Linked DNA regions of Homo sapiens. The protein of the gene in region 1 purifies or fractionates together with the protein of each later gene. This does not show direct contact. Each region holds a gene or a part of one and is shown in the gene's direction. Other genes may lie near its edges. The genes, in order: RRM1, CSE1L, GEMIN5, DNAJC7, FARSB, TNPO1 and TNIK.

Region 1 (4,095 bases):
TCGCAGAGTCTTGTCAGGAGAATTTCAGGTGAGCAGTTCACAACCAGCCTTACAGGGAGATCTTTCAAAAGCCTGATGTTGGGAGTAAATGCTCACTCATGTTTAATTTGCCCATTTTCTTAGTTTGGGTGCAAACTTTGATAAAGACAGTCATCTTCATCTCTAATATTATTATTTGTTATTAATATTTCAGCACAATAGGCATTTAATAAATAATCTGTTGAAAGAATGAGTGAATGAGGGTCGAGTATGAAAGTAAGTTGTTGATAGTTAAACATGATGTTTAACCATTATGTAATCATAGTGATATATTCTATAACTTCTCCCAGATGCTTAAGTTAGGATACTCAAAATGTATAAAGAAGTATCATTTAAGGCAGTGGTTCTCAGACTTGGTTACCAATTAGAATTTATGGTGGGTGAGACCAGTGGTTTTTTCTTTGTTTTTAAGGTTCCCAGGTAATTCTTATGTGTAGCTAGGGTTGAGAACCTCAATTTAAAAGACTATTTGTGAATTTCCAGATATCTTGAAGTAAAGTTCTGTAAAGTTCGAGAAGGATACGTTTCCAATTTTTTTAACCTAAGTATTTATAGATTTACCCATCTTAGGCGCTATTCTTTTCACTTTTGCAAACGCCATATGTTTCTTTTTTAATGAAAATATTTTTTCAGCTTTATTAAGGTATAATTGACAATAAAAATTGTGTATAAAACCAAGGTATACAGTGTAATGATTAGATATGTGTATATATTATATAACGATTACCACACCACAATGTTTTTGTTGTCGATACTGTTTTTGAGAAAATGTCTCACTTTGTCACCCAGGCTGGAGTGCAGTGGCATGATCTTGGCTCACTGCAGCCTCTGCCTCCTGGGTTCAAGCAATTCTCATGCCTCAGCCTCCTGAGTAGCTGGGATTACAGGCATGCTGCGCCACCATGCCTGGCTAATTATATTGTTTCTTGAATAACAGATGTCAAGATCTTAAAGGAATATAGCTTTCGTGTGGTGGCATTGATGTCTCGTCTTTATAAAAGATAGAATTTACCAAGCAATCTAGCATTAAATAACTCTTAAGTGATTTTAGTTTAAGCTTCAAAGCTGTAGTCTTTTCTAAGCAGTCACTGTTATTTATTTCTTCATACATTTTCTGCTTTTCCATTCAGATTGTAAATCCTCACTTATTGAAAGATCTTACCGAGCGGGGCCTATGGCATGAAGAGATGAAAAACCAGATTATTGCATGCAATGGCTCTATTCAGGTATAGAATGAAAATGAAGTGTGCTCTGCAGGGGCTGAGTTGGACATTGTGGTACCTCCTCACTCATGCTAGACAATGGAGAGAATGACTTCATTGTGTTCATCTAGGTTTTGCTTGTGTAGCTCTGTTCACCTCTGCATTGTTGTGCTAGGATTGTACACATCTTTACATAACCCTTACCATCTTGTTTTTATGCAATAATATAAAAAAGTAGTTCTCAATTTTTCTGCATCTTAGAATCAACTGGGGAGCTTTTAAAATCCTGAAGCTTAGGTTGCATTCCTTACCAATTAAATGTCTAGGAACAGGAACCAGACATCAATTTTTTTTTTTTTTTTTTTTTTTTGAGACGAAGTCTCTGTCGCCCAGGCTGGAGTGCAGTGGTGGAATCATGGCTCACTGCAACCTCTGCCTCCTAGGTTCAAGCGATTCTCCTGCCTCAGCCTCCCAAGTAGCTGGGATTACAGGTGCCTGCCACCACGCCCGGCTGTTTTTTGTATTTTTAGTAGAGACAGGGTTTCACCATATTGGCCAGGCTCCTGACCTCAGGTGATCCGCCTGCCTTGGCCTCCCAGGGTGCTAGGATTACATGCATGAGCCACCGTGCCTGGCCTCAGACATCAATAATTTTTAAAGATTCTTTTGGTGATTCCAAAGTATATCAAAATTTGGGGGATCATAGATAGAAAGACTGAAATTAAGAGAGTCAAGCTTAATTAAAAATCATGGTTGACGACTGATAGTCCAAAAGACAGAGTCACAAATCGTGTAAATATTTGCAACTAAGAGTCAAGAGGCATTTATTTGCAGATAGAGGTGTCTGGCTAAATGTTGGTCTGCTTAGCAACACAGATGAAGAGTCCTATAACAGTTCCATATTTAATGACAGAAACTGTAGCATTAGCCAGTCTGTGTGTTTTAATGAAAGTTAACCCTAGGCCTAAGAAAACCTGATTTTGGATTCCAAAGGGAGTTTGAAATCCTAGCTTATTTAAAGGGTTTTATCTCATTGCTTCCCTTGGTCCCTGTGAATTACAGCCCTTATTTTTTGTGTTTTCTGCAAAACTCAAGGGTCATTTATTGCTGCTTAGCTCTGACTTTTCCTTTCTTTAAGTGCCTCTAGAAGAATGAATGTTTGGGTCATAAATCAATTAAAAAATTAAAAAATTGGTTTATGACCAACAAAAAAGGGATGCTGAAATTACTATCACCAGATTGATATTTGGTTGGTTAGATGGGGGTTTTGTTCAACTTTCTAAATAGTCTTGGTAAACTTGATAAGGATCATATCATATGATACTGAATGGTAAGGTCAGATCTGGCAGGAAGTAAAATGAAGATCAAAGCTTGTGTCACTATTCTATTAATCATACACTGCTTTCTTTAACTGGAGTAAAGTAAACATTGGGTTTTCCTTCTTTAGAGCATACCAGAAATTCCTGATGACCTGAAGCAACTTTATAAAACTGTGTGGGAAATCTCTCAGAAAACTGTTCTCAAGATGGCAGCTGAGAGAGGTGCTTTCATTGATCAAAGCCAATCTTTGAACATCCACATTGCTGAGCCTAACTATGGCAAACTCACTAGTATGCACTTCTACGGCTGGAAGCAGGTTGGTAGAGAATATCAAGGAGTACTTAATTGCCAGCTTGAGATATTTTGGCATTGGAATGATTTTATGTTTTAGCCACCTATTAAATATTATCACCTAGAAGTTCTTTAAGTTCAAATCCAGAACGTTAAAACCAACCCATGGTTTTTGTACCAGAACAGGGTCTTGCCTTGGATTTTCTTGTTTCTGTTAGGTTTATTTCCTTCTTAGGTTTGAAACCTTGTAGTTACCTGTGATGCTTTCCTTCCTTTACTGTCCGTACAATTACCAAGTTGTGTTGATTGTTCCTTTGTATTATTTCTTAAATATCTTCCTTCCTTTTCTGCTGCTGTTATTCTAAACTGACCTTATTGCTTCTAGGATCTCTGCTCCCAGCCATTTTGTGTGCATTACCACCATTCCTCAGATAAAACTTTGCACACGTCAACCCGCTATTCAAAAACATCCATTGTTTTCTCACTTTATAAAGTGAAAGCCAGCTTACTTAGCTAGTCGTTGCCAGCTGTAAAGTCTGGTGATTTTGGATTATGTTCTTATTCCCTGATAATGTATTGGGTATTTAAGTAGAATTATAAATTTGTTTTTTAATTTAACATTTATTGAACATCTAGTATGTGCCAGGACTGAGGATACTGAATAGAAGATGATGATCTTTATCTTTGAAGTCTTATAGTCTGTTGTTACACAGAGACACAGTCTAGCTCTCTAAACAGTTATAACCTAAGGCAGACATATTGTCTTGGGCAAACCTGGAAGTCATATGCATAAAAACAAAGACAAAAGAATAAAAATGTTTGACCTTTCCAAAGAGATAAGCCTGTTTTAGGAGTGAAAAGAACAGGATATTTCTGTCTGACTCACAAAGCATTTTTGAGAGTACTCCTAGAGGAGATAGAATTCCAAGTTTAAAAAAAGTTTGATCTGGTTCATGGGAATGTATTTTATTTTATGTATGTATGTATGTATTTTGAGACAGAGACTCACTCTGTTGCCCCGGCTGGAGTACAGCGGCATGATCTTGGCTCACTGCAACCTCTGTCCTGGGTTCAAGTGATTCTCATGTCTTAGCCTCCTGAGTAGCTAGGATCACAGGTGTGTGCCAACACACCTGGCTAATTTTTGTATTTTTATTAGAGATGGGGTTTTGCCATGTTGGCCAGGCTGGTCTCAAACTCCTGGCCTCAAGCAATTCACCTGCCTCGGCCTCCCAAAGTGCTC
Region 2 (4,278 bases), on another chromosome or scaffold:
ACGTGGTAAGGGAACTTATAAAAGTGGTGTTCTTAATATTTTAATCAAAAGTTTCAAGTCAGTGTTTATTCTGTAGGATCTCCCTGAATTTTTTGAAGATAATATGGAAACTTGGATGAATAATTTTCATACTCTCTTAACATTGGATAATAAGCTTTTACAAACTGATGTAAGTATTTAAAATGTTGCCTGAGTGGTCTTTTTCTTTCATTAAGAGTTATTTGGCTACAGTCTGGAAACCTATTTACTCTTGCATTGTTAAAAGATAAAATTTCAATACTGTAATAATATTTGATTCTATTTGATGTTACATGTTTGGTGTGTGTAGTATACAGAATTACTCTTATCATGGGCTTGGCTTAAGCCATAGTGTACATATAAGGCTGTTTCATTACATTATTGAAAGTAGGTCTTTAAAGTAGTGACATTATGGATATTTCATGAAATAAAATTATTTTTCATTGAAGATACTAAGAAAACTTAAAACTCTATAATGGTAGCCCCTTTTTAAAAATCATCTGGCTAGGCATGGTGGTTCACACCTGTAATCCCAGCACTTTGGGCGGCCAAGGTGGGGAGGATCCCTTGAGCCCAGGAGTTCAAGACCAGCCTTGGCAATGTAAGGAGACCCCCATCACTACAAAAAATAAAAATAAAATTAGCCAGATGTGTTGGCTCATGCTAATGGTCACAGCTACTCAGAAGGCTTAGTTGTGAGGATCCCTTGACCTTGAGCCCAGGAGGGCAAGGCTGCAATGAGCTGTGACCATGCCACTGCACTCCAGCCTGGGAGACAGAGGGAGACCTCGTCTCAGAAAAAGAAAAAATTATCCACAGCTCGAGAAAGAGAGAAAATGGTAAAAGATTGTAATTTGTAAATATTTCTGATATGGGTTTTATATTGTGTACTTTTAAACATATAACACTTATTCTGTGCTACTCATTTGTTAATATATTTATGACCTTCTTTCCGAAGAGACAAAAGACAAAATATTAAAAATATTTCAATACCAAATAAACTAAAAATTAGAATTGGTGATTCAAATCAGGTTTTAAGAGTGGGGTACAGAAAGAAATTGTTACTATCGTTGTACAACAGATTTTGTCTCAGAGTTTGACTATATTAATAGGAACTTTAAAAGATGTAGCTCTCATAAAATAATTATTTCAGTCCAATGGGAGGGAAAAACACTCCTTCAGAAAACAAAACTTTTCTTCACACAAAAGTCACAAGGAAATTTTTTGGATAGAATTCTTACAAGGACCTTTTTGCCCAGTTAACCATGTGCTACCTTGTGCTACTATTTATGCCTTAAGTAATCAGTGTGAGGGAGTTTTGGTTTTGGCTTTGGTTTTTGTTCTTACTCTGATGTCTTCCCTTGTCTCACTCTGTCACCAAGGCTGGAGTGCAGTGGCATGATCATGACTTACTGCAGCTTCGACCTCCCTGGGCTCAAGTGATCCTCCCACCTCAGCCTCCCAAGTAGCAGGGACTATGGGTATGCACCACCATGCCCAGCTGATTTTTTTTATTTTGGGGGCTTGCTGTGTTGCCCAGGCTAGACTCAAAACTCCTGGGCTTGGCCCGTCGCAGTGGCCCACGCCTATAATCCCAGCACTTTGGGAGGCCGAGGCCATCCTGGCTAACACGGTGAAACCCCGTCTCTACTAAAAAAAAAAAATACAAAAATTAGCCGGGCGTGATGGCGGGTGCCTGTAGTCCCAGCTACTTGGGAGGCTGAGGCAGGAGAATGACGTGAACCCAGGAGGCGGAGCTTGCAGTGAGCTGAGATCGCGCCACTGCACTCCAGCCTGGGCAACAGAGGGAGACTGCGTCTCAAAAAAAAAAAAAAAAAACCACTCCTGGCCTCAGGCCATCCTCCAGCCTCAGCCTCCCAGAGGGTTGGGATTACCGGCGTGAGCCACTACACTCAGCCAGAATATACTGTTTGAATCTAATACGGAAATATTTTGTAATTCAGCAACTTATTTGAAAGACTTGGTGAAAAGATTGGTGGTGGCATAGCTGTAGTTTACAATAACTGATTTGATTTGGATTTAATTGATAAAGAGTCTAGTTCAGGAATTTCAGTTACTCCTCTTACTTATGTTAGCATTAGAGTTGTATGTTGGAGTTTTTGTTTTCTTTTATGTGAGGATGAAGAGGAAGCCGGCTTATTGGAGCTCTTAAAATCCCAGATTTGTGATAATGCCGCACTCTATGCACAAAAGTACGATGAAGAATTCCAGCGATACCTGCCTCGTTTTGTTACAGCCATCTGGAATTTACTAGTTACAACGGGTCAAGAGGTTAAATATGATTTGGTAAGATGATGGTGGAGACAAATAATTAAAAGACATTCTCTCCCTATCTCCTCCAAGAAATAAGCTGTTGAGTTTTGCTTTTAAAAATATTCTTGTTTTTGTGTTTTGTTCCAGTTGGTAAGTAATGCAATTCAATTTCTGGCTTCAGTTTGTGAGAGACCTCATTATAAGAATCTATTTGAGGACCAGAACACGCTGACAAGTATCTGTGAAAAGGTTATTGTGCCTAACATGGAATTTAGAGGTAATTATGGCAAAAGTATATTAGTATAAATCTACTAAGTCTGTGTTTGTTTTTTGTAACATATTCAGTCTAATTCATTTATTACTGGATAAAACTTGTATGTCATTTATTTCTTATTTTCTAAACCAAGACAGAAAATGTAGTATCTGTAATGAGTTTTGTTGTGCCCTGTGAGGGTTTTCTCATGGAAATATTAAATAAGACTTCAAAAATTCCTTTACACTAAGAAGATAAACTATCTGGAATTTCTATTTAGAGAAAGAATTTGATTTTGTTTCATTTATTATTTCAATGAATTTTTAGCTGGCTTTATTTATTTATATATTTATTTGAGACAGGGGTCTCGCTCTGTCACCCAGGCTGGAGTGCAGTGATGCAATCTTGGCTCACTGCAACCTTAGCCTCCCAGGCTCAAGTGATCCTCCTACCTCAGTCTTCTGAGTAGCTGGGACCACAGGCACACATCACCATGCCTGGCTAATTTCTTGTATTTTTGGTAGAGACAGGGTTTCACCATGTTGTTCAGGGTAGTCTCAAACTCTTGAGCTCAAGCAGTCCACCCGCTTTAGCCTCCCAAAGTGCTGGGATTGCATTTCTGAGCCACCTCGCCCAGAAATAGCTGTTTTTAAACAATCGACTTGAGAATAGAAATGATAACTTTATAAATACAAGGTTGAAGCCCACTTAGTTTGTGCTTAAGGTTAAACTATAGTGCTAAGAGCCTATATTTATAAAATGTATGTCCTTGTTCTAACAGTTGTGAAGAACAAGTAATGAAGGTGGGAGGGATTGTGTTTTTTGTTTTGGGGACAGGGTCTCACTGTGTCACCCAGGCTGGAGTGCAGTAGCACAGTTATGGCTTACTGCAACCTCAACTTCCCAGGCTCAAGTCATTGTCCCACCCTGGCCTCCTGAGTAGCTGGGACTACAGACGTGCACCACCATGCTCAGCTAGTTTTTTATTTTTTATAAAGATGGGGGTCTTCCTATGTTGCACAGGCTGGTCTCAAACTCCTAGCTTCAAACAATCCTTCTGCCTCAGCCTCTCAAAGTGCTGGGATTACAGGCATGAGCCACCATGCCAGGCCAAGATTTTGTTTTATATCAAAATAGTTATTAGATCAGTGGTTTTCAAATTACATCTGGAACAAAATAAGGAAATTAAGGACAATATAGCGTGAGATTTTATTTCCTGTTGTGTTTTCATAAAAATATGTTTAAAGGATAAATCTTCTGGCTGGGTGTGGTGGCCCATACCTTTAATCCCAACACTTTGGGAGGCTGAGGTGGGAGGAACACTTGAGCCCAGGAGTTAAAGACCAGCCTGGCCAAAATGGCAAAACCTTATCTCTACAATAAATAAATTAGTTGGGTATGGTGGCATGGGCCTGTGGTCCCAGGTACTCAAGCAGCTTAGGTGGGAGTTTTGCTTGAGCTCAGGAGGTGGAGGCTGCAGTGAGACATGATCATACAACTGCAGTGTGTGTGTGTGTGTGTGTGTGTGTGTGTGTGTGTGTGTGTAGACTTTTTTTTTTTTTTAATTTATATGATAAAAATAGAGATGAGATCTCGCTGTGTTGACCAGGCTGGTCTCAAACTCCTGGGCTCAAGCGATCCTCCCATTTCAGCCTCCCAAAGTGCTAGGTTACACGCGTGAGCCACCATGCCGGCCATTTCTGACATTGTCCACTCTACTTATTTGTTGTTGA
Region 3 (4,278 bases), on another chromosome or scaffold:
CCCACCGTCAGCACTGCCATGGCTTTGAAATGTAGCGCTCTGCTTTTATTCTAAATCTAATTCCTCCCAGCCATCTGTGTGCCAGAATTGGTATGTTGGCCTAAGTATCTCAGCATGAATAAACTCCTTCAACTCTTTTCCCCATTGAACAGTATCCTATGGAGAAAAAAATCTTTTTTTCTTATTGGAAATATGCTCATAATATGGCATTTTTTTAGAAAAAAATTTGATGGAAGCTTTTGCTTTGTAAGTTTTGTTTTGAAGGGTTGTTTTATTTTTGTTTTTCAAAGTCTTCATTTAATGTCCACTATTTTGATATTTTAATAACTTTATTTTTTAAATTTGAAGTTTACATGTGGAAAAGGGATGCACATAATAAATAAAATTGATGCTTAAGGGGCTGAAGCAGAAGGATCACTTGAGCTCACTTTAAGGCCAGCCTGGGCAACATAGTGAGACCCTCTCTCTATTTAAAAAAAAAAATTTTTTTTTAATTTTTTTTTCAAAGTAAATCTTCCTCCCAGTCCTCTGTTTCTCCTCCCCAGGAATGGAGGACCATCCTCCCTCCCGGTTACTGTCTCCCACTACCCTAACAAGGGTAGTCACTATCCTGGGCTTCCATTTGTTTCTTTCTTTTGAATTTTTGAACTGTTTTGTCTGTATTGCATAATCAAACTATTATCAGTTTCTTGTGTCTTGATGGAGATGTTTTATGCTTTTATTATATACATAGCCTTTTTGGAGCTTTGTGATGACTTCCTATAACTTACATAGTTAACCTAGTTTCACATTATTTTCCTTACTGGAAAATTACTCAGTTGACTTTTTTTTTGAAGCAAAGGATGAATATTGAATCCCCTTGTGGTAAGTCCCAGTGAATATTAAGGACTTTCTTTTGCTTATTAATATTGTTTTGCTTGTTTTTTACTGCACTTAAATATGTTCTGATTTGGGGTTCACTTTTAACATTTTAAGTGTTTTTGTGTTTTGCTCCCTTTGTAACTGCAGGAGTCTCTGTTAGAGCTCTGATTCTCTCAGTGTCTGAAGTGGGTGTTCCAAACATATATTCGGAAGTTATTGGAGAGAAAACTGTAATCAATGTAATGACTTCATCTGATTTTTTTGCCTTTTTAAATTAACAGAGCTGAATGAAGATGTGTCTGCTGATGTTGAGGAAAGATTTCATCTGGGGCTTTTCACAGACAGGGCTACCCTGTATAGAATGATTGATATTGAAGGTGAGACAAATCCAGTCAACATAATCTCATCCATCTTTATACTTTCCCAACATTTTGTGTGCACCTCTTTGATGGCTGTCATCCTGTGATATTATAATGGTTAGTTTTACGTGTCAGCTAACTAGGTTTTGAGCTCCCTGATTTACATATTGATACAACCCTTGCATCATCATAGGATCCTAAACATACAGCATTCACTCTGAGTACATGTGAAGGTGTGGGAGTGTACAGTGACCAAGTGGGCTTCAGATCTTACTGTAATCACTCTGGTAGGTGACACCCATCAGAGAATGACTGCATATTTTAGGAGCTCACTTTCTCTTCTATCTTGCCTTTCTTTTCCTACAAGTCAGTAACAGATGTTTCTGAAACACCTTCCAAACATTATCTCTCTTTCAAACAGGAAAAGGTCACTTAGAAAATGGCCACCCTGAGTTATTTCACCAGCTTATGCTTTGGAAAGGAGATCTCAAAGGTGTTCTCCAGACTGCAGCAGAAAGAGGGGAGCTGACAGACAACCTTGTGGCTATGGCACCAGCAGGTATGGTTTTTGTTTGTTTGTTCTTTTCAACAAAAGCTCTATCATCTCTAGGATACGTCCACTAAAGATGGCTCTTAGCACAGTCTTAAGCTTGAAATCACTTACAAATAGATACAAAGCAATAGACAGCAATAGACAAACTAATAAATCCAACCCAACCCCTTTGAAAAAAAGCAGGTCACTGACACTTTAATTGGCAAAAGCATAATTGGTGAGAACTTCTTGAAGGACAATTTGGCCATGTCTAGTAAATTTTAAAAGATATAATGGCACAAGTCTGTAGTCCCCAGCTGCTCAGGAGGCTGAGGCAGGAGGATTGCTTAAGGCTAGGCGTTCAGACCTATAGCGCTCTGTTAATTGTGCCTGTGAATAGCCAGTGTATTCTAGTCTGGGCAACATCATGAGACCTTGTCTCTTTAAAAAAAAAAAAGGCTGGGTGTGGTGATTCCTGATTCATGCCTGTAATACCAGCATTTCGGGAGGCCGAGGTGGGCAGGTCACTTGATCCCAGGAGTTTGAGACCAGCCTAGGCAACATGGCAAAAGCCCATCTCTACAAAAAAATTAAAAAATTATCTGGGCATGGTGACATGTACCTGTAGTCCCCGCTACTCGGGAGGCTGTGGTGGGAGGATCACCTGAGCCCGGGGAGGTTAAGGCTGCAGTGAGCCATTATTGTGCTACTGCGCTCCAGCCTGAGCCACAGAGTGAGACCCTGTCTCAAAAAACAATAAAAGGAAAGGGAAAAAAAAAAAGCACGTAGTCATGTTACCTTTGGCTCATCAGTTATGATTATAGGAATTTAACTGTGCTCACACATTCCTTTCTGTATCTTTTCAACTTTGTACTGTTTTGTTTGTGTTACATAATCAAACAATTGATGCTTCAGAATGTGTAGATGAAGCAGATGATCCATAATGGCAGCTGAATTGGTATCTAAATGTTCTGCTGAATGCATTGACGAAAACAAGGCTTTTTCAACCCAAATGTACTGGGTATTGTTTTTACTTTTTCTTCAACTGTTTTTTTAACCACCATCTTTTATTTTTTCAGCTGGCTACCATGTGTGGCTATGGGCTGTGGAAGCTTTTGCCAAACAGCTGTGTTTTCAGGATCAGTATGTCAAGGCTGCTTCTCACCTACTTTCCATCCACAAAGTGTATGAAGCGGTGGAGCTGCTCAAGTCAAACCATTTTTACAGGTCTGTGTGGTCCTAGAGTTGGGATAATACTTGGACATAATGTGAAAATAACCTAAACTTCTCTATTGTTAAAGTAACATAAATAGAAGAAACAGTCCTCCTGCTTCAGCCCCCTGAGTAACTGGGACTACTCAGGAGGTGCATGCCACCACATCCAACTAATTTTTTAGTTTTTTGTAGAGACGGAGTCTTGCTGTGTTGTCCAAGCTGATTGCCAACTCCTGGGCTCAAGCGATCCTCGTGCCTCAGCCTCCCAAAGTGCTGGGATTACAGGCATGAGCCACCATGCTTGGCCAAGATTTTCTTTTTGTTCTACCCTGCTTTGGTTTTGTTATCTTCCTTTAGAGAGTGTTAAACTTTGTTTTGGTAAGTAGTAAAGTTGTGTATCAGCTTGATCTTTTCATGGCTTGTTTTTAAACTTCGTTAGGGCAAGTTTATCATATTCTAGAATTACCTCCTACATTTTGATATCTTTCTTGAATGCCTTATGCATTCAACAAATCAAAACTCAGATGTCTCCAAGTCCTGAGTAAGCTCTGGGAATTGTTCAGCTTACAGTTACCTAGTCATTCTTTGTTTAGACTTAAGGAGTTTCCTTTACATACGTGGCTTTTAATTTAGCCAAAGACTCAATGGGATCTCCAGGCAGAGTTGTGGATGTCTTTCTCTGGACAGCTTCCTCCTTCCTAGTATCCTGCCCCTCAGATTTCCATTGTTTCCTCTTCTCAACTCAGAGACTGCTGAGGTTTTGCTCAGGTTTTCCTTAGGAAAATGGCTTTGGGCAGAAAGCCAGTGCCAAGATAGGGCTCCCATCATTTGTTTCTGTTCTCTTAGGGCTGACCATCCTATGCTGCCTGTTACCTGGTATCTAAAAACAGTTGTTTCAGCCATTTTGTCCAGTTTTTTAGTTTTATGGCAGAAAGGTAAGTCTGGTCCCAGTTACTCCATCATGGCTGGAAGTAGAAGTCCCAAAATACTTTCAAAATATTGCTCTCTCTAGATCACTTTAATCTAATAAAACACTTTTTTCCCAGCTACAACTTTATGTTGGCTACAACTCAGCAGTTGTATGTCATTTGAAAAATATTTGTTTACTGAGTTGTTCAGATCTTCCAAATGTTAACATATCTTATTATAAAATACCCAAAAATACCACATTCCTTACTATCACCATCAGTCTCATCAGAAAATTCTAACTTATGGGAAACTCAGGCACACAAGTGGTAGGTACAAGTTTTCTAAAATTCTAATTTTTGCTAGAAAACTCGCATTTTATCATTAGTAACAAATACTGTTGGT
Region 4 (4,278 bases), on another chromosome or scaffold:
GAGAAAATATAGGGCCAAGTGAGTGGCAGTTGCTTAGAGTCCAGTCCACTCCCAACAAACAGAACTCTGATTGGCCGAAAGCCCAGCCTTATTGTACATTCCAGCCAATCAGGGATTAGTTTAGTCATTGAAGTTTGTATTTTAATGGTTTTGAAAAGCTGAGTACTGGGCACTTGCTTTTTTGTTCTTCGGGACTTTAGAAGTTTGGAGAACAATAGTCAGCAGTTGCCTAGTTGCTTTGTGGCCTGATGCAGAGTCCCTCTGAGAGCCCATTTCTCCCTTACTGCACTAGTCTTTGGTCCCCTTTCTCCAGCACTGAGTGATGTGGAAGTTACTCAGAGGTCTTTCCAGGTATTCTTTTAAACTTTTGAAGTAAGAACAAAATTCAAAGTGCAGTTATCCTAACAGGCTATTCATTTTATTGGAGTGACACTGTTTTTCCTTCTCCCATTCGGATCAAAATGGCAATTCCTATGTTTTACCCTCACCATGGGTAAGAATATGAGTGGTTGAGGCTTTTGAGAATGGTAATAGGAGGAATATATGACTCTCAGGTCTTATTCTGAGACGTGAAATTCTATTGGCATGTGACTTACAATTTGTGTGGGGAGGCCAGATTGTCAGATAAGCAGTGTTAACCATCTCTCTTGATTCTAATATTACTTTTGGAGAGAGTGTGAGGGGCAAGCAGGACCCTCTCTTGTTTTTGGAGTTTCTGTCCTGAGAGTTCTTCCTTGGACAGTTTGCCCTGAGACAGTTAACCACCTGTTGAACTAAGGAACCAAGACAACTTTGAGAAGTGAAATACCGTTGACAATCCAGGCTCCTCCCCACTCTAGTTCCCATCTCCACCCCACCCCACTCCACCCAAAAAAACTCAGGAAGCAGCCTTTATATATATATATTTTTGAGACAGAGTTTCATTCTTGTTGCCCAGGCTGGAGTGCAATGGCGCAATCTTGGCTCACTGCAGCCTCCGCCTCCCGGGTTCAAGCAATTCTCCTGAGTCAGCTTCCTGAGTAGCTGGAATTACAGGCATGCGCCACCACGCCCGGCTAATTTTGTATTTTTTTTTTTTTTTGTAGAGACAGGGTTTCTCCATGTTGGTCAGTCTGGTCTCGAACTCCCGACCTCAGGTGATCCACCCGCCTTGGCCTCCCAAAGTGCTGGGATTATAGGCGTGAGCCACTGCACCCGGCCTAGGAAGTAGCCTCTTTCTTTCTCTCTTTCTGTCTGTCTCTTTCTTTCTTTCTTTCTTTGTGATGGAGTCTTGCTGTGTCTCCAGGCTGGAGTGTGCAATGGCACGATCTCGGCTCACTGCAATCTCCGCTTCCTGGGTTCAAGCTATCCTCCTGCCTCAGCCTCCTGAGTAGCTGGGACTACAGTTGCATGCCACCATGCCCAGCTAATTTTTTATATTTTTAGTAGAGACGGGTTTCACCATGTTGGCCAGGATGGTCTTGATCTCATCACCTCAGGATCTGCCCGCCTCGGCCTCCCAAGTGCTGGGATTACAGGCGTGAGCCACTGCGCCAGGGCAAAGCAGCCTTTTCCTTAATTGTAGTTCCTCAGTTTTAAATTTTTGATGGGTGCTGGTGTCCCTATAGTGGGAGATGTCACAGAATAGGGAACCGAGGGATGGAAAATGGTGGGTTTGGGGATATGTTATGAAAACAAGCCTCTGGCTAATGCTGAAAAGCCAGTGACTTGTATCCTCAGAATGGTTTCAGAGAAGCATGTTTCCCAGAAGTAGCTTCATTGTTGGGTCTCCTCTCCCCAGGGATAAGTGAAGGTTAGGTAGATGTAATAGATTGTGACACCTCTCATTTAAGGACCTAAAATAAATTTCCAACTCACCGTTGAGACAAGTATTTCCAAGTGAATATGTTTCTGCCTGCAGTGATGGGATTTCTGTAGGGATTGAATTGGTTGCTTGCTTTTTCTTCCTTACTGAATAAGGCATAGCCAGCTGCATAGCCAGGCACAGCTTGCTGGCTGGTGTCCGTCCCTGCCTGAACAGTAGGGAGTGCTGCTGCTTTGTGTAGACAGTCTGTGACTCCTCTGGTGCATTTTGGGTCCCTTCTGACTCTGCCCGTGTTGAGGCTTCTCCTTGAATGTCCACCCAGAGGACAATTTGAACTGGTATGTTAAGGAATTTTCTTCATCTTCTGCCTTCTCTTTATTAGCGGAGATGTGTGGAGGGTTGTTCCATTTGTGCTTTAAAGTGAAAACTATCTATTCTGTAGGAAATTGGGTAAAGAAAGCTGAGTAGCAGATAGCTTTGCTAAAAGGTAGCAGTTGGATAGCGCTCACCTTCTATTTTTTTCTGGATGAAGCACCGAGCATAAATACCTTGCCATATTTATAGAATTATTCCAAGTCATATATCTATGGCCCGGCGTGATGGCTCACGCCTTTAATCCCAACACTTTGGAAGGCAGAGATTGGCGGATCACTTGAGGTCAGAAGTTTGAAGACCAGCCTGGCCAACATGGCAAGACCTCATCTCTACTAAAATAAACAAAGATTAGCCAGGCATGGTAGTGGGGCCCTGTAATCTCAGCTACTCAGGAGGCTGAGGCAGGAGAATCACTTGAACCTGGGAGGCAGAGGTTGCTGTGAACTGAGATCACACCACTGCACTCCAGCCTGGGCAACAAGAGTGAGAGTCTGTCTCAAAAAATATATGTCTGACCCGGCGCGGTGGCTCACGCCTGTAATCCCAGCACTTTGGGAGGCCGAGGCGGGCGGATCATGAGGTCAGGAGATTGAGACCATCCTGGCTAACACGGTGAAACCCCGTCTCTACTAAAAATACAAAAAAATTAGCTGGGCGTGGTGGCAGGCGCCTGTAGTCACAGCTACTTGGGAGGCTGAGGCAGGAGAATGGCGTGAACCTAGGAGGCGGAGCTTGCAATGAGCCGAGATGGCGCCACTGCACTCCAACCTGGGTGACAGAGCGAGACTCCGTCTCAAAAAAAAAAATCTATATCTATATATATATATCTATACCTGTGACTTCCACTTATCTATGTGAAACTTATATTGACATTTCACTTGTAGAATAGTAGATTTTTTTTTTTTTCTTTTTTGAGACGGAGTCTCACTCTTGCCCAGGCTGGAGTGCAATGGCACAGTCTCGGCTCACTGCAACCTCCGCCTCCTGGGTTCAAATAATTCTCCCGCCTCAGCCTCCCGAATAGGTGGGATTACAGGCACCCTCCATCATGCCCGGCTAATTTTTGTATTTTTGTAGAGATGGGGTTTCACCATGTTGCCTAGGCTGGTCTTGAACTTCTGACCTCAGGTGATCCACCCTCCTTGGCCTCCCAAAGTGCTGGGATTATAGACATGAGCCACCTTGCCCAGCCTAGATTTTTTTTTAAAAAAGAAACTTCTTACCGGGCACATGCCTGTAATCCCAGCTACTTGGGAGGCTGAGACAGGAGAATCAGTTGAACCTGGGAGGCGGAGGTTGCGGTGAGCTGAGATCACGCCATTGCACTCCAGCCTGGGCAACAAGAGCGAAATTCTGTCTCAAAAAAAAAAAAAAAAAAAAAAAAGGCAGTTTTTTCTGGCCAATTGTGGTGGCTCATCATGTGTGTAATCTTAGCACTTTGGGAGGCTGAGGAGGTGGATTGCCTGAGCTCAAGAGTTTGAGACCAGCCTGGGCAACATAGTGAAACCCCATCTCTACTAAAATACAAAAATTTAGCTGGGCATGGTGGTGCGTGCCTGTAGTCCCAGCTACCAGGGAGGCTGAGGCACAAGAATCGCTTGAACCTGGGAGGTGAAGATTGCAGTGAGCCGAGATCTCACCACTGCACTCTGGCCTGGGCAATAGAATGAGACTGTCTCCAAAAAAAAAGAAATTTTTTTCTTAAAGAAGAATCTAAATGATATGCTTTTGGTAAGATGGAATAGAAGTTAGGCTCCTGGGCTCCTTTTACTTTATTTTGTCATGAAGGTCAGGGAGAGTGCAACATGAAACAGGCCCTGTGACATGCCATTGGGGACAAGAGGTCTCGGACTGTGGGAAGGAGGAAAGAATTTCTACTCTGACTGGCCAAGATCCCGTGAATTCTGAAGGGTGGAGGGCATTTCTAGATCAACAGGCAACTAGTAAGTTTGACTGAATAAAATAAATGGAGCACAACAATCATAGAGTAAGGCGACATTTGGGGAGTAGTAAATATAAGAGGAATGCATAAGGGATATTGACTCATTGGCAGTATAAAGTATTATTATTAATAGCCTAAAGGAAAAGAAAAGTATCTT
Region 5 (4,278 bases), on another chromosome or scaffold:
AAGACCAGTTTTCGCTAGAATATACTGCTAATGATGTTTTGTGTTCAATTTTTGGTAATGTGAGAACCCTGAAAAGCTAAACAGTAGGATATAATATTAAAATAAGGAAGAGAACTTATTTTATTAATTGCTAATAAACTATTAATTATTGTAGACTCACTGTGTCTCAGGGTACTATGCCAGGTCCATTTTATGCATTAGCATTTAAATCTTTCCAATAGTACCATGCCATAATGGCTGTGAAATACCATTTTATAGATGAGGCAGCTGTAATGTTGACACAAGATACCAAGAAAGTTTACATAAGGTGCCAAACTCTCAGATCTAATAAGTGGGATAGAATTCAAACTCTGATTGACTTGGCTTCAAAGCCAAAAGTGTCAGGCCACCTCAGACCATTTTACCTGATAGGACTTATGTGACATTCTGTTGTGTGAGATCTGTGATTTGGAGCCTACTTTATATCTGATCTCTACTTAACAGGTGAACAGGTGTTTTTCTTCTGTGTACATGCAAACTTCCCAGTGCAGGTAACCTAAACTACAGTTGATATTAGTGTAGATTAATCAAGCCTTTAATAGTTTTTTCTTTTTTTTATCTTAAATTTTTTTGGCCCAGCTTTTTTTTTTTTTTTTTTTTTTTTTAATTTTTTGAGACGGAGTCTCGCTCTTGTCAGCCAGGCTGGAGTGCAATGTCATGATCTCGGCTCACTGCAACCTCTGCCTCCCAGGTTCAAGCAATTCTCCTGCCTCAGCCTCCCAAGTAGCTGGGATTACAGGCATGCGCCACCATGCCTGGCTAATTTTGTATTTTTAGTAGAGACAGGGTTTCACCGTGTTGGCCAGGCTGGTTTCAAACTCCTGACCTCAGATGATCCACACACATTGGCCTCCCAAAGTGCTGGGATTACAGGCATGAGCCACCATGCCTGGCCTGTTTGTTTTTAAATGATAATATGTGATGCCTGATATTTAGTAGTATGATTGGTGTAAGGCAATTAGTAATAAGAAAATGCAGTTTGTATGTAGTTTTCACTTATACTGAACAGAGTGAAATTAACCATCTCCTTTTTTATTTTCCTAGCTGACGAAGAATTTGATGAACTATGTTTTGAATTTGGTCTGGAGCTTGATGAAATTGTATGTATTGGATATTTGTCTATTTTTCAAAGATTGTGTGCATAAGCTTATTTTTCAGGGTTATACTGTATTTCATCTTTGTTACCTTATAGTTAGACTAAGGTGATAATGTTTGTGGGCCATGATTTCTGTGTTCAGAGGGCTAAGCTCCATGTCTGTCTGTTGCCTTGACTAAAATCTCAAAAGGAGTTCATGCCTTATTCCATCTACAATCACCTTGTTACCAGGCTCATGCTGTGGAAATGGATAGAATGTGTTAGATAACCCCAGTATGAAAGTAAGCTCCCTCCTTTGGCAAATTAATCACAGAAAGGGACCAAGAAGCAGTAGAAATGTTGCTTCAACCAGAGTTACCCTGCCTCCTTCACTTCCAGCGCCTCCTCCTTCAGCTCCTCTGCCCCCATAACCTTCCTCCGTGCCTCTTCAACCAGTACTAATGCATTACTATATTCATTGGTCTTGTAAAATGAACTAATATTTTTTAAGGACTTGCTTATAAAAATGAGGAAGCATTTTCTTTGACTTTTGATTGTATAATGATTACAATATTTAAAAAAATCAAGTCGGCTATACATTTTAATATTGTTAATAATGATTATCTATTAAAGACATACTTTAATTTGGTGGGGTTGGGGGTCTGAGTCCTTCCTCGCGGGGGCTTGATGGGTCCTGAGCATCCTCTGGCCGGGGTTTCTGATCCATCTGCTCCAGCATAAGTTCACAAAGTACAGTCCGCAGGCCAGCAGCATCATCTGGGAACTTAGGAAAAAACCAGCCCTACTGAACCAGAAACTGGGGATGTGGCCCAAGCAACCTTTTACCAAGCCCTCCAGGTGATTATAATGCAAGGAGAGACGAGGTTTTACCATGTTGGCCAGGCTGGTTCTCGAACTGCTGACCTCAAGTGATCCACTGCTTTGGCCTCCCAAAGTGCTGAGATTACAGGTGTGAGCCACCATGCCTGGCCCAATGTGCTTTATATAGTTTCACTCTGTTGCCCAGGCTGGAGTGCGACAGCGCGATCTTGGCTCACCACAACCTCCTCCTCTTGGGTTCAGGCGATTCTCCTGCCTCAGCCTCCTGAGTAGCTGGGATTACAGGAAGGAGTCCTTATCTTGGACCTGAGGCTGCTTTCTTGAAGAAAACTTGACTTTATTTCATTTAGTGGGAAGAGCAGCAGCCCAGCTAATAAGTTCTAATATGCAATAGGCTGCAGGCTGTGAAGTCTGAAGCTAAGGAGCTGAGGGCTTAACAAGTTTCTAGAAGCTGCCATCAACATGCCAAGTCAGTAAAACTGAAAGCTGGTCAGATTTCAAGGTCTGGGGAGGAATCCACTGCATAGTGGGTCTTGAGCTCTAGAGAGCTAGGCCTTGCTAAAATAAAAGAATTACCTTACCTACCATCTTTGTTCCAGGCTCCGTAGAATTTGTGACAGCCCTGGCTGACCTCCGAGCAGAGGCTAGCTGTCCCATCTGTCTGGACTACTTGAAAGACCCAGTGACCATCAGCTGTGGGCATAACTTCTGTCTCTCCTGCATCATTATGTCCTGGAAGGATCTAGATGATAGTTTCCCCTGCCCCTTTTGCCACTTGTGCTGTCCAGAAAGGAAATTTATAAGCAATCCCCAGCTGGGTAGTTTGACTGAAATTGCTAAGCAACTCCAGCTAAGAAGCAAGAGGAAGAGGCAGGAAGAGAAGCATGTGTGTAAGAAGCATAATCAGGTTTTGACTTTCTTCTCTCAGAAAGACCTAGAGCTTTTATGTCCAAGGTGCAGTTTGTCCACTGATCACCAGCATCGCTGTGTTTGGCCCATAAAGAAGGCTGCCTCCTATCAGGAAAAAACTGGAGCAATACAATGCACCGTGGAAGGAGAGAGTGGAACTAATTGAAAAAGTCATAACTATACAAACCAGAAAATCACTGGAACTGAAGAAAAAGGTAAAACATACGGCAGAAGAAGTCAAGTCTGAATTTGAGCAACTTAGGTTATTTCTGCAAAATGAGCAAGAGACTGTTTTTGGGCAATTACAAGATGACGAGATGGATATTTTAGCACAACTAAATGAAAGCCTAACAAAATTTTCAGATTATACCTCCTCATTAAAATATCTACTAAAGAAGATAGAGAGCATATATGTGAAGTCAGAACTGGAATTACTGGCTGATGTTAAGGATATCTATCACAGACATAAGAATTTAAAATTCCCTAAACCTTTTTTATTCAAATTAAAAGAATATGGTTACCATCTGTCTCCACAATATTGTGGCCAAAACAAAATTATCAAGCGATTTCAAGTAGATGTAATTCTAGATCCTGAAGCAGCACATCGTAAACTTATAGTCTCAGAAGATAGAAAAACTGTGCGATATGGAAATACAACACAAAACTTACCTCATAACCCAAGAAGATTTTATCTGCTCCCAGCTGTTCTGGGTTCTAAGGGATAAAATTGTGGCAGGCAGTACCGGGAAGTAGAAGTTAAAGACATGCCTGAATGGATTCTTGGTGTCTGTAGTGACTCTCCTCCCACAAGGAGGAAGAGTCAACCAATTTTAGTACAGGATGGATTATGGAGAATTTGGTAATCTAGTCGGAATAATTATATTGTATTGGGCCATAAGGAAATTATTCTGCTGCCAAAAGTAACACCTAGTAAGATTGGCATTTTTTTAGACTGTGAAATGAATGAGGTTTCCTTTTATAATTTGAATGATAGATCTCTTCTCTGTACTTTTAATGATGATTTTACAGGAGAACTTTGGCCTTATTTTTATACTGGAACTGACTCAAAACCTCTTAAAATTTCTACAGTAACAGATTCTGTATTTTCTTTCACCTAGTAGACATAACTGAGCCAGTTAATCTAGTTTTGGCCATTCTGTATTTTGTCCAGTTTTTCTCATAAAAAAACAATATTTTTTATCTCAATTTCAGCAACTTCCAAAAAATGTGATTATGGGACCTACTTTATAATAAATTATGGGGTCAATGACAAAGTACTTTAGAAATTCTATGGTAAAATACTTGAAAAATATATTACTGAAGGAACGTATTATGTAAGAAAATCTATTACTTTTGTAATTGCCAATAAAAGCCCAATTTTTTTCTCAAAAAAAAAAAAAGACATACTTTAATTT
Region 6 (4,278 bases), on another chromosome or scaffold:
GTGAAATCAGATTATATGTACTCTGCTGCTTTCTTTCTGTGTATCGTATGCCTCATTCTTCCTCAGTACATACAGATTTAGATTTCCTTTTGTTGCATGTCAGTGTACTGTTTAGTTGTATGGCTCTACCATGTGGTATAACTAAGATCCTTATTGATGGGTAAGGTGTTAATTTCTGGCCAATGTAATGGTTTTGTTTTGGTTTGGTTTGGTTTTTTTTTTTTTTTTTGAGGATTTTATTATTGTCTAGTAGTTTGTGATTAGCCATTTACTATGCCTAGTTCACGTTGGAAATTTCTGATATTTTCTTAGTCCATTTTGTACTACTATAACAGGATACCTGAAGTTCAGAATGGAGGGGCTGCATCTGGTGAGAACCTCCTTGCAACATCATCTGATGACAGAAGGACACACTTAAGAGCTCAATTCACGCTTATAATAAGCCAACTCTCTTGATAACTAACCCACTCCTACAGTAACGACATTAACCCATTTATGAGGGCAGAACCCTTAAGACCTAATCATCTCTTGATAGGCCCCACCTCCCATCTTCGTTGCTTTAGGGATTAGGTTTCTAATACATGAACTTCAGGAACACGTTCCTACCCATAACAGTTAAATGATATTTTTGTTGTTCTTTTTGATTTTGTTGCTCTTGTCTAAATTATTATTATAATAAAATCTGGGTTGATTTATAGTCCCATAGTTAATTCTTTGTAAAGAGTATTTTCTAGCATGCGTTATGTTTCATGTGCCAGTGACTTTTCTTCCAGTTTTTGTGTCTAAAGTCCAGCTAAGTAATTGTCTGTTTAATTCTAGATGATATACTGCTGGAAATGTTAAGTAGAGTTAATAATGTATGTTTTTTGCGTGATTGTAACAGTGATTGTAATCATGATTGTAATATGAGTGTATCATATTGAATGGTTATGTTAGAAGCACTGAATTGAGTGGCACAGTATTTGTTTTACTGTATAGACAGAATTCTAGTATGACAGTTATGTACAGAATACAATGTGTTCACAATTAATTTGCCAAGTAAGTTCTTGTCATAAAAAATATTCATCTTAATAGAAAATGTTTTTGGCTGGGCATGGTGGCTCACACCTGTAATCCCAGCACTTTGGGAGGCTGAGGAGGGTGGATCACGAGGTCAGGAGTTTGAGACCATCCTGGCCAACATGGTGAAACCCCGTCTCTCCTAAAAATCAGCTGTGCGTACTGGCACACACCTGTAATCCCAGCTACTCAGGGGGCTAAAGCGGGAGAATCACTTGAACCTGGGAGGCAGAGGTTGCAGTGAGCCAAGATCGCACCACTGCACTCCAGCCTGAGCGACAGAACAAGACTCCATCTCAAAAAAAAAAAAAAAAAAAAAAACCACAAAATGTTTTCACGTGACAAACTACCTCCTATTCAATTGAATTCTTATTTTAAAACTCCGTATTAGAGATACGAATAAAATGTTACATATACAATAAATAATATATAAGTAATAAGAGGTTAATGTAATATTTTTGAATTAAATATTTCCTTAGGAAAATGTTCTGCTGCTGCCCTGGATGTTCTTGCAAATGTGTATCGTGATGAACTGCTGCCACATATTTTGCCCCTTTTGAAAGAATTACTTTTTCATCATGAATGGGTTGTTAAAGAATCAGGCATTTTGGTTTTAGGAGCAATTGCTGAAGGTAAGCCTAAGTCCAGTTTGAATTATGTAAGTTGGCTTCTTACTACTATTAGGTACTAATAAGGCTAGGCTACTTTAAGGAATTTCTATTTTGAACCAGATAACTAGTATTAAACAGCCATAGGCCGTCTTCTAACCCCAGCTAGATATTTTGCAAAATGTTTTTGTTATAATAAAGGTAACAGAGGCCAGGCATGGTGGCTCACGCCTATAATCTCAGCACTTTGGGAGGCTTAGGCGGGTGGATTACCTGAGATGGTTTCAAGACCAGCCTGGTTAACATGGCGAAACCACGTCTGCTAAAAATACAAAAATTAGCTGGGCGTGGTGGCATGTGCCTGTAGTCCCAGCTACTTGGAAGGCTGAGGCAGGAGAATTGCTTGGACCTGGGAAGTGGTAGTTGCAGTGAGCTGAATTCGTGCGATTGCACTCCAGCCTGGGTGACAGAGCAAGACTCCATCTCAATAAAAAATAAAAACAAAAAAATTAAGGGAACAGAATGAAAGGCTCTGATGTCTGAAGCATCCCCATTGCTTTAAAAAAAAATCCTTGATTCTTTAGGTAAGTATAGGAAACACAATAAGGCAAGACTCTCTTCATTCTCTATGAAGGGTTATTATTGATTTTGTCCTGGCAGTAAACATCTATTAGAAGAAATTGAAACACTGTAAGATGCTTGGGAGCAGGTAGCTCTAACTTCAGGGTTTTAAAAATAATTTTGGTATAGGTTATTGTAGTATGTGTATAGCAGTAGAAATATTCTGAATTTTTTCATAGATACGTGTTTTATTTTCATAATCAACCAAAATAATGTTAACTAAATTTTAGCATTTTGAAAGATTTATTTTTTTTCTAGGTTGCATGCAGGGCATGATTCCATACTTGCCTGAGCTTATTCCTCACCTTATTCAGTGCCTCTCTGATAAAAAGGCTCTTGTGCGTTCCATAACATGCTGGACTCTTAGCCGCTATGCACACTGGGTGGTCAGCCAGCCGCCAGACACGTACCTGAAGCCATTAATGACAGAATTGCTAAAGCGCATCCTGGACAGCAACAAGAGAGTACAAGAAGCTGCCTGCAGGTGGGACAGATTCATAACACAGTGTTCTTTGTGGCAGTGAAAAACTTAATTTTCAACCTTCTGATGGAGTGTTGGTGTTAAACCTATAATGAAGTGTTTCGTAATTGAAAATTTTCCAGTTATATCAGAAAGCTTAGTTTTCTTTTTTCTTCTTGGTGAAGTGTTTTGCAGGATCTGTAGCTTTTGGGTTTGCATATTAGCGTATTTTATACATTTTGTTTGGCCAGGAGAATTTTGTCATGTGGGTTTTACCTGATGATTTTGTAGATCTAAATGTGACAACATCGATCTTAGCTGTTTCTTCTTTGGCTCATTTTTCCCACTCAGTGGTTATTATAACAGAACTATCTTACACCCTAATTCCCTCAGACATCTGAACTAGTGATGGCAGGACTCCTACTCTTGAAGGAATAACAACGTTTGAGCAGATTGACATCCTTAGACTACAGGTCAACCACCATAACTCAGAAAGTCCCACAGGGACCTGTGGTCTGTCACTTACCAGTTAAAGGTCTTTGAGTGCTTAGTAGTTCTGCTCTAGTAGCCATTCTATTGGTTGGTTTGGTGGCTGTCTCTTTATATCAAGCCAGCAGTTGCTTTTATTACTACAAATATTCCAGTTTCCTGCAATATACCTTTATATTTTAAAAGGGCCTTCTGCTTATGTTTATAGTTCTTAATTTTTCGAGTAGGTTTGCTTTTACCATTGACCTTGATAGTAGGAAAAAATAACTGTTGAACAAAAAAAAGGAAAATTTTATTTTATTTTTTTTAGATGGAGTCTTGCTCTGTCGCCCAGGCTGGAGTGCAGTGGTGTGATCTTGGCTTACTGTAACCTCCGCCTCTCGGGTTCAAGCAATTCTCCTGCCTCTGCCTCCTGAGTAGCTGGGACTACAGGTGTGCGACACCATGCCCAGCTAATTTTTGTATTTTTAGTAGAGATGGGGTTTTGTCATGTTGGCCAGGCTGGTCTTGAACTCCTGACCTCAAGTGATCCACCCATCTTGGCCTCCCAAAGTGCTGGGATTGCAGGCGTGAGCCACCGCGCCTGGCAGGGATAGTAAATTTGAGTTTGACCTTAATCCATCTGAAGCAGTCATATCTGGAAGATATTAAGGGAGGGAGGATATAGATTATGTTTGAGATCCTATAATTTATTCATTCAGTACCTCGGTTTTTTTTTTTAGCTATTAATTGTTAAGCATATACTAAATGCTGAGTTTACATAAAGTCCCTGCCATCTTGAGACTTACAGGTTAGTAGGAAATACAAAGCAGCAACATAATTATCATTTATGGCAAGTGCTATGGAAGAAATCGGTAAATAATTCACAGTGCTGATGACCAGGGCTTTCATTAACAGATGGCTTAGACCATTTTAGGAAATTCCTGATTGGGTAAAACAGAACATAAACATTTTAGCAATTAAGAGTTAGATATATCTTACAGTCAATAAGTATTCTTTTTTTTTTTTTTTAAACAGTGCCTTTGCTACCCTAGAAGAGGA
Region 7 (4,278 bases), on another chromosome or scaffold:
GAGGAATCTTTAGGGTTTTCTAGGCATAAGATCCTGTCATCAGCAGAGATAATTTCACTTCCTCTTTTCCAATTTGGATGCTTTTTATTTTTTTATCTTGCCTGACTGTTCTGGCTAGGACTTCCAATACTATAGGAGTGGTAAGAGTGGAAATTCTTGTCTTGTTCCAGTTCTTAGGGGGAATGCTCTTAGCTTTTTCCCATTCAGTATGATGTTGGCTCTGGGTTTGTCATATATGGCTCTTATTATTTTGAGGTATGTTCCTTCAATGCCAAGAGCTGTGGATCTTTTCCTAGGTTTCAGATGAAGAGATCAGCAAAAATAGTCTAATAAACACTTTATGTCATGAAAAGTTATAAAGCAAGTAACTGGAAACTTAATGTCATTTAAGTATATTAAAATTTTTCCTACCTAGTTTCTTTAGGACTCAGAATATTCTGTTTCTTGAGATATTTTACCAAGAAACTGACTGCCATGTGTACCAACTGTGGATTACGAATTCTCTAAGAATTAGAATCCACACTTAACAGCAAAAGATTCAGAAGGCACTTAAAGGATTGTTCAATTTCTCAAGGTCATCACCGTAAACATTGCTTATTATTCTATCAGAGACACACACGTAGGTAAGAGTAATGAAGAGAATGCCAGACAACAGTCTGTTCTTCCATTTTTCCATTCAATAAGCATTTATTGAGTACTACTTTGTGTAGGCAAAAGCATTGTGGGGACTCAATCATTTAACTAAGCTTCTGTCCATAGAATTTACAATGCTTAATATTCCATCTTTCTAAAGAGTAAAAGGATTTGTCAGTATTCGTAGCCCTTTAAGCCACTAACAGAACCCAAGACTCCTAACACCCCCCTTTCGTTAGAAGCATAAATAAGCAATTATTTCACTTGGTAATTGGAATTCAAATATAAATAATAAGCAAATGGCAGCCTTTATATCTGCCCATTTGCTAATTTTTCTACCATCTTGCCATATCTGCTCTCAGCTACTTAAATATGGGTGAACGTAAAAGCCAGGCAAGCTAACATGAAGGAAATTATGCACATTCTTATTACAATGAATATCAACATCAAGACCTAGTGTTAAAGACAGTCCTAAGCAGTTATATCTCTGGATGATGAAAAGTCTTCAATATAAAGCAAAAGCCATAAGTATTCTGCCAACCAAAGTTCGCTAAGGGAAGCTAAATCAGTATCTATGAAAAAATCCCACACCAGGAATATCACCTTCATGAAGCTGACACCCAACATCAATATTTAAATTTACATATTGTTGCTTATACATTCATTAATATTAATACAAAGAACTTGAGTAAATTGATGTACTTTTTCACTCATAATTTTTCTATTACAGTTAAATATGAAAGGATCAAATTTTTGGTGATTGCCTTAAAGAATGCTGTGGAAATATATGCTTGGGCTCCTAAACCGTATCATAAATTCATGGCATTTAAGGTAAGCAGGGATGTGATTATCTAAAATGTGCTTTTTAAAAATTTTCCGTTTCTACCCATTAATAAAATAGTCCATATAGACCAATACCAATTTTCATATAGATAATAAACCTGTTTTAAAAGTGTAGGTACTCTAGGGTTTATTGTTTCAAAAGTAAAGACTGAATATTTGTAAATGCTATAAAATTAGATTAAAATTTGGGTATGCCCTCCTCCTTGAGATCTATGAATCATCATCCTCAAGAGGCATTTAGAATGGTTAGTAGGCATAGCATTGATTATGATCTTATGCAATGACATTTGTTATAAAGCCACCTAAACCAGGGTATTCCCTGATATTTTGTTTGAAAAAGGCAGACAAATGGCAGCACTGAATCTCAGAGTTAAACTGAGTCTCTTTTAATCCTCATAAATCTTTCTGAATGAAGTCCCTAAAACTCAGGTGATGCTTATATGTCCCCAGTGCTAACTTACAGAAATGACCTAGTTTCTCTGCATTCTTCTATTTTGATTGCCTTTTCATTTTTTTACCTTGTCTAAGTCTGTACCCACCATGGTTGGATTGGTCACTCATGAGATTTGCCAGGAGTGGGATGGGGATATGCTAGTCCTGTTGACCCCAGCTCATGAAGCTGACACCCGAATACCAGGAGGACCAGTACTTACAGGCACCCAGATGTGTTCAGAGCCGCATAACCTATCCATAGCCCAAGTGAACTTATCTTCTGTTTTCTCTCACTCTCTCTCTCTGATCTCTCTCTGTCTCTCTCTCTCTCAGCTTATGTCTGTCTACTTCTTTATGTCTCATTGGCTCTCACTTTTTCTCCCCACCTTTATGACTGTTATCTCCATTTGGCTCCTTATTATTTTCTGCCACATTCTCATGAAGGGCAAAACTGCCCTTGGAACACCATGTAGGCCCACTTCAGAGCTGAATCACTTCTATCTTGTTCCCTTAGGGCAGATGGCTTCTGATGTGCTCAAGAAAATAGATTCATTAATGGAAATGGGCTCCCCTCCATGACCTCACTTTTATGGAAAAAAATTGGAATGCATTAGGTTACTAATAACAAGGGATAACTCCTAAAAGCCAAAGTGGTACTCCTGTTCTGCCAAAATCTATCTCCACAAAAGCTTTTCAATCAACATCCCATTCCCATTCTTGCTCTGAAGTTATTGCCATTATTTTATGACCCAGAGACACATGAGAGAGTGCAAAATGTTCTTTCTGACAGACCCTATCCAGCCCAGAAAGAGGGAAGAGCAAAGGCAAAGACTTGAACAGGAAAGAGTGGAACTGGCAAGAGGCCAAGCCTTCCCATAGGACAAGGACAGGACGCTAGAGCTTCCCATGCTGTCAGAATGGTGTTAGCAAAAGATGAGAAGAGAAGGGTCTGAGAGGTAGCAGTGGCATTATAGTTAAGGCAATTGTAGTTTCACAAATGCTCTCCCAGATCTCAAGGCCCAAAGGTAGAGCGTGGTTAAAAAATAGCAAAGGAAAATGGCAGAGGAACACTTGACAGTTAGTTGGGGCTTGGGCTCTGGATTCAAACACAGAGAACTTTGACAAACTTGGCAAGATCTCTCTTTTTGCTTTCTAGTTAAACCCAAATAGTCAATGCAAGCCATCAATCTTGTGATGTTCCACTCCCACCTCTTTCTCTACCACCCAAACCCAAGTCTCAGATTCCAACATTAAGAGAAAGTGCCAATCTTATGCCTACTCATTCACTGAAGAAAAATCCAAACCAGAGCATGCCCATTAATACTAAACAGGCTGAGAAAACAGCCGGCCTTGGCTGTCCCTCCCAGGCTGTCTCTGAAAGGGTAGTTGCTGTGGATGGGCCTGGTTGCCACATGGGAAAGAGGGGGGCCAGAGAGGTGACTGGGCCTTCTTCAGAGGACAAAGGCCAGAAATAAACAGGAAAAAACAGCAATACCCAGGCACCAGGTTTTTAATATACATTACCACTATCAAAATTTACACCTGTGCACCAACTTAAACTTCACTGCCCCGAAGGACAAAGGGTAGAGAAAGGGGCACAAATGGATGCTAGACCCTTCCTCCTAGGGCCAGAATATCAACAGACCTAAAACTGAAAGAGAAATTTTCTAGTTTTTCACTTTAATAAAGTTAGAAGTTAACTTCCTCTAGACAGTGGCTAAAGGAAAAAAATTAAGATGCCTCTTTGAGTGATGCGGATACTAATGGGGTGATTTTTAAAGTCTTTTGCAGATCTCCAGCACAAGCCTCTGCTAGTTGATCTCACGGTAGAAGAAGGTCAAAGATTAAAGGTTATTTTTGGTTCACACACTGGTTTCCATGTAATTGATGTTGATTCAGGAAACTCTTATGATATCTACATACCATCTCATGTAAGTACTCAGAAGTAGACTTTCAAGGGCTCTCTGTACAACAGCCTGCATGTAGAAAGAGATTTGTTTTGCATAGTTTTAGTAGAAGTCATGCACACTTTACTAACCAGCAAATGGACTTTCGTTCTTCATTAAGTATACTGCTTTTAATAACTAAAATATATAAATTTAACTAATTTTTATGACTTCCTAAAATTGGGGAATACATAATAGAAATCATTTGGCATTTACATGTTGTCTCTTTGGACTTTAGATTAAAATGAATATGACATATTTCTTTCAAGGGCATGAATTATATTCGGTAGACAAGTTTCCACATTCAGTTTTTGAAGGGAAATTCGTTCATTTTATGTTAGAGAAAGCCAATGGTCAGGTACTAATTTATTGGAGAAAATTCTTTTTTTGCTATTTTTAGTTCCTCTCTTCAGCTTGAGGGCAG

What was found.
Region 2: the proteins of RRM1 (region 1) and CSE1L fractionate together in Homo sapiens (co-fractionation; one large-scale study listed by BioGRID). This does not show direct contact.
Region 3: the proteins of RRM1 (region 1) and GEMIN5 fractionate together in Homo sapiens (co-fractionation; one large-scale study listed by BioGRID). This does not show direct contact.
Region 4: the proteins of RRM1 (region 1) and DNAJC7 fractionate together in Homo sapiens (co-fractionation; one large-scale study listed by BioGRID). This does not show direct contact.
Region 5: the proteins of RRM1 (region 1) and FARSB fractionate together in Homo sapiens (co-fractionation; one large-scale study listed by BioGRID). This does not show direct contact.
Region 6: the proteins of RRM1 (region 1) and TNPO1 fractionate together in Homo sapiens (co-fractionation; one large-scale study listed by BioGRID). This does not show direct contact.
Region 7: the proteins of RRM1 (region 1) and TNIK purify together in Homo sapiens (co-immunoprecipitation; one large-scale study listed by IntAct). This does not show direct contact.

The regions. Positions count from the first base shown.
Region 1 is NC_000011.10:4,132,394-4,136,488, forward strand, and holds part of RRM1 (ribonucleoside-diphosphate reductase large subunit), read left to right. Parts: coding exon 1-28; intron 29-1,169; coding exon 1,170-1,265; intron 1,266-2,688; coding exon 2,689-2,877; intron 2,878-4,095. UniProt on the Homo sapiens protein: Provides the precursors necessary for DNA synthesis. Catalyzes the biosynthesis of deoxyribonucleotides from the corresponding ribonucleotides.
Region 2 is NC_000020.11:49,070,129-49,074,406, forward strand, and holds part of CSE1L (exportin-2), read left to right. Parts: intron 1-76; coding exon 77-169; intron 170-2,157; coding exon 2,158-2,325; intron 2,326-2,439; coding exon 2,440-2,569; intron 2,570-4,278. UniProt on the Homo sapiens protein: Export receptor for importin-alpha. Mediates importin-alpha re-export from the nucleus to the cytoplasm after import substrates (cargos) have been released into the nucleoplasm.
Region 3 is NC_000005.10:154,900,040-154,904,317, reverse strand, and holds part of GEMIN5 (gem-associated protein 5), read left to right. Parts: intron 1-1,142; coding exon 1,143-1,238; intron 1,239-1,641; coding exon 1,642-1,779; intron 1,780-2,831; coding exon 2,832-2,979; intron 2,980-4,278. UniProt on the Homo sapiens protein: The SMN complex catalyzes the assembly of small nuclear ribonucleoproteins (snRNPs), the building blocks of the spliceosome, and thereby plays an important role in the splicing of cellular pre-mRNAs.
Region 4 is NC_000017.11:42,007,124-42,011,401, reverse strand, and holds part of DNAJC7 (dnaJ homolog subfamily C member 7), read left to right. Parts: intron 1-4,278. UniProt on the Homo sapiens protein: Acts as a co-chaperone regulating the molecular chaperones HSP70 and HSP90 in folding of steroid receptors, such as the glucocorticoid receptor and the progesterone receptor.
Region 5 is NC_000002.12:222,645,601-222,649,878, reverse strand, and holds part of FARSB (phenylalanine--tRNA ligase beta subunit), read left to right. Parts: intron 1-1,083; coding exon 1,084-1,139; intron 1,140-1,753; exon of another isoform or gene 1,754-2,038; intron 2,039-2,882; exon of another isoform or gene 2,883-3,078; intron 3,079-3,532; exon of another isoform or gene 3,533-4,257; intron 4,258-4,278.
Region 6 is NC_000005.10:72,885,532-72,889,809, forward strand, and holds part of TNPO1 (transportin-1), read left to right. Parts: intron 1-1,538; coding exon 1,539-1,691; intron 1,692-2,546; coding exon 2,547-2,772; intron 2,773-4,254; coding exon 4,255-4,278. UniProt on the Homo sapiens protein: Functions in nuclear protein import as nuclear transport receptor. Serves as receptor for nuclear localization signals (NLS) in cargo substrates.
Region 7 is NC_000003.12:171,068,409-171,072,686, reverse strand, and holds part of TNIK (TRAF2 and NCK-interacting protein kinase), read left to right. Parts: intron 1-1,363; coding exon 1,364-1,464; intron 1,465-3,689; coding exon 3,690-3,839; intron 3,840-4,278. UniProt on the Homo sapiens protein: Serine/threonine kinase that acts as an essential activator of the Wnt signaling pathway. Recruited to promoters of Wnt target genes and required to activate their expression. May act by phosphorylating TCF4/TCF7L2.